Linked DNA regions of Homo sapiens: region 1 is linked to region 2. Evidence: fine-mapped expression QTL. A gene starts in region 2. The other region holds a variant in brackets. All regions are shown on one strand. Distances are between the middles of the regions.

The links.
Region 1: its variant is fine-mapped to the expression of CD47 in spleen (GTEx, PIP above 0.99).

The regions. Positions count from the first base shown.
Region 1 is chr3:107,975,150-107,979,541 of GRCh38, reverse strand. No RefSeq gene overlaps it. Among named protein-coding and RNA genes, the nearest start is that of LINC00636, 94 kb to the right of the region's middle. The variant C/T (reference allele first, on the strand shown) is at 2,102.
Region 2 is chr3:108,089,055-108,093,446 of GRCh38, reverse strand. CD47 (CD47 molecule) reads left to right here and starts at 2,416. Exons shown (of 11, transcript NM_001777.4): 1 at 2,416-2,584. The coding sequence starts at 2,539. RefSeq lists silencers at 1,803-1,862, 1,873-1,922, 1,943-2,692.

The sequences.
Region 1 (4,392 bases), 110 kb after region 2:
TAGCCATGCGAGTCCCCAAGATTTAGAAGTAAGAGAAACTTCCCTGGGCCTCATGGTCACAGTTCCATGAGGAACTCCTGGCAAGCAGCAGGGACAGGTGCTCACAGGGCCACTAAAATGAGCTGGGGAACTTGCACAGGTCACAAATATCTGGAGCCACAGTTTTCCATTTGTTGTGAGCTTAGAACCCATTCTTTAAATGAGAACTTATCTAGAATTCCAATACATTGAATGGATAAAAATGCCAAGGCTCTGGCTGGAGGATGGGGGTGTCTTTTCTGATGAGTTTTACCCACCAGGCTGTCCACAGCTAAGAGACCTCTATCTCTGGGGAGCCTGAGCCATCTCCACCCAATCCCAGGGATCCCTAAAACACAATGTGAAGCCAACTGGCCTAGGGCATACACCTGCAGGTGAAAACTTGGCTTAGCTGTGGCTCACGGTAATGTTATTAATTATAGTCACACTTTTAAGTTACACTTATTTTTCACTTATTATGTGCCACAGATTATTCTAATAACTTAACATTAATTTATTGAACCCCCCACAAAAACCCCATGAGTTAGGAACTATTATTACCCTTCTCTTAAAATCAGGAAGCCAAAGTCAAAGGAAATATAGCAATTTACCCAAGCTAGGAAGTGGTAAAGCCAGACTTTGATCCCAGGAAGTCACATTTCAGAACCAGCTTTCTGAATAACTCAGTCTAATTAGTTCTACCTTATTACCTTGGGCAAGTTATTAAATGTGTAGGATTTGTGTGCAAGCGTCTAGTTTTAGCTCTCTTCCCCTTCCCTAAAAAGAGAGGAATGGGCAGAAGAGCCAATCAGGTTTCGCAGGGGCCTGGACCCATGGCTAGGTTTCTTCTGTTCCTCTTTGCAACACTGGAAAACAAACAACTCCTCTAATAGCGCCAGAGAAATCTGACATCCTTGCTCAGTGTTTCACAGGAGGAAGAACTATAGCACTGAAGCCATGGCTATAAATATCAGAGTTAATGAGGGAGGACTCCTGGAGACCTAAATGAATCTATTTTATGGGTTTGTCATACAGCAGGTTAATATGATTCTGACAAATAATTATATTGAAAACTGGACAGGGACTGAGAATGTTGTTATTCCTTTTGAATGTTACAGCAGAGTCTTCTGGCCAATTAAAGGGTGATGACGCCAACACCCAAAGTGCAGAGCAAAACTGTAACAATTTGTGGCATTTAGACAAAGGAGCTTGCAGCCGGCGCCCACCCTGGCACAGGCAATAGGATTGTCATTGTCTAATTCCTTAATGAGCAGAGAAACTCCCTCATATAGAATATTGTATGGTTAGACTTGGTGTGGATCTAGGAGGAAGGGGATAAAGGCAGATGGACTACAAATGTGGCTTTTCTTTTCTTTCTTTCCTTTTTAAACACCAACTATAAGGTTTTCACATGGAGGGACATATACATTGGGTGAGCCCCGAAAACAGATTTTCAGTTTAAATATGTCAAACCCTGATGGCAGCTGCTTCTTGGGCTGGAAGCATGGCTTATTCTCTCTTGGGTTAATTACAGTGGCCTCTGAGGGGAAAGGGCTTCTTACTGAAGAAAAAAATAAAAAGATATTCTGTGGCTGTGATATTTGCCCTCATCTAATTGGGTTGCCCAGAAGTCCTGGAGCTGTGTTCCAGCCAGGAGGGCTGGGACTCCCAGGAAGACTGATCCCAGGGAAGACATTCAAGTTCATGAGTCTTTCCTCAGCCACTGGGGGCTTCTCTCCCAGGTCTACAGGCTGTTACTGCACAAGGGCATTTTCCCAAGGGACTGCAGAGAGGCTGAAATTCAGCCCTTCCTCTCTCACCCTGCCTGACCTCCTGGAGGAAAGGGGACATTTTCTAATTTGTATAAAGATGCTACCAGGGTTAGCAGGGGTCCTCAGCTCTTCCGTCATGGTCAAGGACCACTGCTTGGGCTGCAAGAGCAACTTAAAGGCACGATTTTTACTTGTCTTTCTAATGTTCCCACGCTACTGCCATTGCCCTCTGTATTTTTCTGCCGTATCTGTCGCCTCTCATATGGCGTAAAGAGAGTGAGAAACAAGACATACAGTTACTACATTAAGAA[C/T]GAAATCCCATCTGGCCTTGACTCTGTTGGCGCTGTTTCTTTTCATCAATAAGATCCTTTTCTCACTATGTCCCCCTTCCCAGTAGTTTTCCAGCCAGGAATTGCAAGTGAGATATTTTTCAAATGTCCACACCAAAACCCTCTTCTCACAACCTGAGTCAATCTGGACCTTGTGCAAAGTAAAACTTAGGGGAACTGCTTTAGCAAGAAAGCAACTCAGACACTGTGACCAATCAATGGATCAATCAATCGATCAAATTTAAAAGTACAGACTTCAACAATGAGCTTTTCTTTATAACATCCTCTAAAGCAGTTCCATATTAAATTGTTTAGCTAAATTCTCATGAAGGTAAGTGTGGTGACTTCCAAGAGAAAACAAATCATAATATTGCCATGAGAAAAACTCTCAATTCTTGAGGACAGCTGCACCCTCCCCTCATCCAAAAGGTTGCAAATAGTGTGGGACTCTCTCCAGGTCACTGAGCACTGGCCTGGGGACCCTCTGCCAGGCCCCTGTCCCTGCGTGGCTCACACTCCCTTCCTGCCACCACCCAGTTTGAGCAGAGGGCCCTTGGTTTGAGCAGGTCATCCCCAAAAACAGAGAAAGACCTACCTGAAGTTAATCCCTCAAATCCAGTATTTGGAAAAAAAAAAAAGTCCGTCCTCCTTTATTTTCTTTCCCAATTTCAAGCCAGGATAATGCCATATATTTTTCTAGACAGCAGATACACAGCATAAGATAAAATCATTTTTTTCCAGTTAAGCCTCCTGCTGGGTTCCCTAGCCAACTTTCTGCAGCTCATAAAATAAACACAATTCCCATTCATCCCCCTAGCACAGATCCATCATTGCTTGGCTATGGACAAACGGGCAGGTGGTGCTGCACAACAGGCTGGGATGAGCTCTTTTTTTCCTTCCTGGACGGAAAAGGTAGGATTAACACAAGATCTTTTCTATTAGTGGATGACAGGGCAGACAACTGGGAAGTTAGAGTAAATTTCATCCTGGAGGAAAAATAAATACGGAGGTGGTCATCAGAACAGTCTTGCTGTCTCCATAAAGGCAAGTCTGGAATCTTCCATATAGATCACTATCTCATGCACAGTGCAGGCTGGCTTTGTTAGATGGAGATAAGCAACTATGTATATGTGGGGATGTGAGGCGGTGAGGGGGTGGGGATTGGAGAGGTAATAATTTGAGTGCATCAAAAGTGGACCCTGATGCCAGGCAGTGGCTCATGCCCAGCATTTTTGGAGGCCAAGGCAGGAGGATCGCTTGAGGCAAGGAGTTTGAGATCAGCCTGGGCAACACAGCAAGAACCTGCCTCTACAAAATAAATTTTCTTAAGTGTGCCCTGATCAGAAATATGATGACCTACTTACAAAGCATTACTTCCTGTTAGCATTGCTTCCTTTTAAATTTTGAAAGTGTGGGGGGACTTCAATGAAACAGCTTCAGCAAAAGAAAGACATACAAACAGACATAGATTTTCTATAAAGTTAATAGAGCTTAAAGTCCCTCAACTGCTTGAACCTCTGAGTAGTGAGAATTGTTGGGAGTTGCAGAATGTTCTAGGTGGGGAGGGGAAGCCGGGCTGTAATTAGAAAGCATTTCTGTACAAGCACACAGTAATTTCAAAGCTGCTGAAGCTTTTCTGTACAATCACACACACACAGCTGCCACGTCTTTGAGCTGCTGAGATGTTGCCATGATGTGGTGGTGCCTGAGGAGTGGTCCTTTCTTTGGCATCTGCAGGCCCTGAGGCATGGTCTGGAACTGGAAGAGGAACAAAGGGTTGCTGAAGTCTGCTTTGCAGGTAGATGTCAAGTGCTAAGGTTGCTAGAGGAAGAGTTAGTTGTGCAAAATTAGTGCTGCCATTAGAAAGAGTGTCTCCTCCTCAGTTAAGATTCAGAAATTTCTGTCTCTGATAATTAATGATTTCTCTAGGACCTTATCTACCTGCAAGAATATGATGCACTTGATTCAGTGACAACCTATTGGATGAGCTTGCATAGTGAGGAGACAATCTGTACTTCATCCTATAGGAAACACCACAAATAGTCCTGGACTTGGAGTGCAAAAAATGCTTTCTGAAGTATCCTAAAAGTCCCTATCCCCACTGTTTCCTGAGGGAAGGATGGGATGGATTCTAGGTCAGGGTACTCCTTCTAGCTGGGGAGCAGATTTGCTTGGAGGTGATCTACATATAAAATTGTTAAGTGAGAATTTGTGAAGGGTCAGAGATTTTGTCTCACTTCCAAGCTAACAGGTTAGCTGGCCACAGTTTTCAC
Region 2 (4,392 bases):
AAACTGTAGCAACTTTGCTATTATAGGGTAAAAAGAAAAAAGGATGAAAACCAGAACAAGGGAGAGAGACAAGAGAGAGAGCAGTGTCACTTATAACTGTGGGCAAAGTGCTCACCATTCCTCTTTCCCTTTGTTTCCTCATCTCAAAAAGGGAGATCATAACATTTATCCTTTCTGAGGTTGTTATGAAGATTAACTTAGGTGATATAGCTAATGTGTACTTCCTGTGTTCAAAACATTCTAATATGTATTATCCCCTCCCTCTCTACCCAAGAAACTCCTTACATACAGATAAGATGAGCTCAACATCCAAATTAAAATGCTTTGAAAAGTTAAAAGGCAAACCTTTAAAATGATTAAATACTGAAAAGAGCTTAAGGTTATCTCAGAGAGAGGATAATCAAACCTAGGCAGGCTGCTTTGGACTGTCTCTCCTGGGATATGCCTGCTTTTGCCCCACCACCAAAACATACCCCAGCTAGATTCCCAAGAGCAGCAGTGGTCACCCAGGTGGCCTCTCATTCCATTTTCTGCACAAAAAGACGTTAAGCATATAGCTCAGTAGCTCCCAGTGTAAAACAGAACATCACCCGATCTCCACCTCTGAAGGTTGGGGACAGTCCTTTCTAGTCACTCTTCAGCTTTAGGGGGGTTGGTTGGTATCAGGGACAGCTGACAGCCTTATTTAGCCAACCAGCTGCTCTGTGATACACAATGTCCCTAATGCTCAAAGTCTGGTGGATGATTCTTTTGTATCCACATAAGCAGCAGTTGGAGGAGAATCGATGAGTCCCTTTGGTTGCCTCGGGGTGTCAAGGCTGCCATTCAAATCATTACCACCATAATTATTAACCATTGTTTTAGTGAGATGTCTGCCAGGCAATTGTTTTTATTTTTCAATCATTAAAAAAGCAATCAAATTTCACTAGAGCAATGCCTGCCTCACGCCGCATCAACACATTTATTAAACCCCTTCTGTTTGCCGAGCTCAATGGAAAGTCTTGGAGGAGGGAATACTTAAAATGCTCTCGGATTTAAAAGAATTGATAATGCTGTGGGGAAGAGGTTCACACAAAAAAGCAATTACAGGAAGAAGCTCGATAGTATACAATACACTGGTACAGAGTGTCATAGACAGTGCCACTTTCATACGCTGGATTTTATTTCTGTGGCAATGGGATGCTTGGGAGGAGCCGCACTGTGTAGAGGATTTGGAGAAGTGGGGTATTGTGGTGGGAAATTGCTTTCTTTCCCAGGAGGTAGGAGGAAAACAATCAAGGAGGTGGACAGGATGTGCACTCCATTAGAGCAGCCACCAGAGCCTGACTTTTTGATAAGAGAGTACATCAGTTAGGATAACGGTTAAAAGTATCTTTAAAAGACTTTTGCTTCAGGATGAATGATGTGGCCTGTGTGATTCAGCGATAAATTCAAAAGCCTTGTCCCTATTGTGGCTTGCGGCCACATTTCGAACCCATTTTTCAAGCATGTTAAACCCAAGCGCAGCGCAGAGGGCTGCACATGGGGCAGTCACAAACCAAGCTCAATAACCTTGCTGGTGGGGATGTGTTGGATACGCTGCTAATGCCTGTTTGCGACAATGCTCGCTAGTCCCGGTGGTGGCGGTGTTCACAGGTAACAATGTTTACCACCGTGAATGGAACTTGTTTGATTAACCCTGATCAGAGGATGAAAACACTAAAGAACCAAGTGAGAAAGAGGGAAGAGAACCGCATAGGGAAGAGCAGAGCGAGTAGACGAGCCGAACGCAGAGCCCGCGAGGGGCGAGTGGAAGCTCCCTGCGGGCAGGTACCCGACCACCGCCCTGCCCTGGGCGTGGCGGCCTCGGGCTCAGGGACCGCTTCGGCGCTAGACGGCCGCGTCCGGAGGAAACGGGCGCTGGTGAAAGCCTAGGTGTCCTGGTCCACGCGCGCAGCCGGACGTCGGGTCCAGGGAGAGACGCGGGCTGGGGCGGGACGGGACCCGGCCCCTGAAGCGCGAGGGTGGGAGTGAAAGCAAAGAGGAGAAAAGTAGAGAGAGAGGACAGTGGGGCCCAGCGCCGCGCGAAAGGCAGGAACCGACCCGCGGACAGGAACGGGTGCAATGAGGTCCCCGGCGAGCGTGGGAACACAGGGTTCAGCCTCCTGCGGCGGGCGAGCACGCGGACCCCAGGGGCGGGCGGGTGCGACAGGACGTGACCTGGAAGCGCGGCGCGTGCCACCGCCCTGGAGCAGGCATCCGGCCTCCGTGGAGCGGGCAGGCGGGCCCCGGGTCTGGAGCCTGCGACTGGGGAGGGCGCCGCGTCAACAGCAGCGGTTGCGGGGCGGGGCCGAGTGCGCGTGCGCGGCTCTCGCGGGCGGGGAGCAGGCGGGGGAGCGGGCGGGAAGCAGTGGGAGCGCGCGTGCGCGCGGCCGTGCAGCCTGGGCAGTGGGTCCTGCCTGTGACGCGCGGCGGCGGTCGGTCCTGCCTGTAACGGCGGCGGCGGCTGCTGCTCCGGACACCTGCGGCGGCGGCGGCGACCCCGCGGCGGGCGCGGAGATGTGGCCCCTGGTAGCGGCGCTGTTGCTGGGCTCGGCGTGCTGCGGTGAGTGGCTCCTCGCTCCCAGCCCTGCGGCTGCTGTCGCTTCGCCCCCGCGGGCGTGTGGGCTGCGCCCCAGCCAGCCCGGCGGCGCCCTGAAGAGGGTGGCCGGGGCGCAGAACACTCGGGCCCTGAGCGCCCGAAGTGCAGACGTGGGAGGGCCCCACGGGGAATCGGGCGCCCCCCTTCTTCCTCCCTTCCTTTCCCTGGTCGTCTTCTTCCCCCTGGGTGAGAGCGGGGCTCATCTCCTCCACCCGGTTCTCCATCTCCAAATGCACACACACAGGAAGACTCCAAACCGCGCACCTCGCGCAAAAATTAACTAGCAAGAAAGGGCGCGATCAGAGGCAAGGGGCTGCAGCTGCTAGGGATCCCCTTCTTTCGCACCCCTCTCCCTTCTCAGTGCTTAGACGCATTTGGGGTTGAGGGAGGGAGAGTGGGAGGGCCCGGGCCTCTTGCGATGGAAGTGCGCATTTTGGCGAAGTCGGTGAGAAGGGGTTTCTGCCGTTTGCCTCCCACATGAACATAGGAGCGAAGAGGACGTAAAGGACACAATTAAGTTTCATTTTCAACTCAGCATTCAATCAGAAGAATCTTCCGGCCGTGTAATTTTTGCTGTCGTTTTTAATCCTAAAAATAAGCTTGCTGGAAACTCTTCCTTTCTCGTGACCCTCACGCCCCATCAGCCACTTGCATACATTCTAAATTGTACGTTGAAGTTTTTCCCACTTTATTTGGGGGAACCGTTTTAAAAGTAATCTGGTTTTCGCCTGAAATAGGAAGACAGTAACCTCCAGTCAAAACATGTGCAGCAGAATGGGATTTGGTGTTTTTCGACGCCAAAGAACCTCCACCCCCCCACCCCCACCCCGAGCTTTTGGAATCCATTTCGCTTTTGTAAAACGTGTGCTTCGTCTGTAAAAACTGAGCAAGGAATAGAAACATTCGTAGCTCTACAGTGAGTGCCTGTCACACTTCACATCCATAGAGCCTTTTGTGAACTTTTATAAGATTCAGAATTCAGCTTGAGCACCAGTGACAGCAATTGTTACATTTATTCTAGAATGCTAAATTAATTCGATTTTAAACTGATTATTAGCCTCGGTGTGCCGTTCCTAAAGGCTTGTGACTTTAGGTATTTCCAAGATGCCCTTAAGTCTCTGCTTACCACTTTCCTCCCTCCCCGAGCATCCTGGATGTTGGGACTGTGAATCCAGGTCTCCGTTATCTAAATGGTTGATGTTAGTGTTTCCTGTCATCACGTTTAGTATGCTTGTTGCCTTTACTATCATTATAGCTAAAATAATACTGCTTTCAGAGATGTGTTGTATAATCGCATAATAATTTCAGAACGCCTTCATATTGAACCAGATATGAAGTGATACAGTATCATTTATTCAAACTGCCTAAAAAGTAAAAAGTATAAACCATATACTATTTTTAAAACAGGTAGGTTAGATTTAAATCACGTAGTTTAGAACTGTTGGAATGGTACTTTGAGTGATAGGATTTATGTTAGGCCTTCTTTAGTAATAGTTAATATCATGTAATTAGCACTCGTTTACACACAATTTTAATGTGTTCGAATCCCTAGAGTCATCGAATTCAGAATTTATAGTATTTTATTTTACTTAGTTAATATTAACCTAAAAAAAAAGCAAAATACAGGCATTATGCAGTTGAGTTGTGTTAAGTGTGGACTGTAAAACAGGATAGTATTTGTTATAAAATATGTTTTTGTATGTGTTTAATATATAGCTTCAAAAGGACATGTATGAAGAAAGATGTCTCAGCACATAGGTAGTTATAAACCA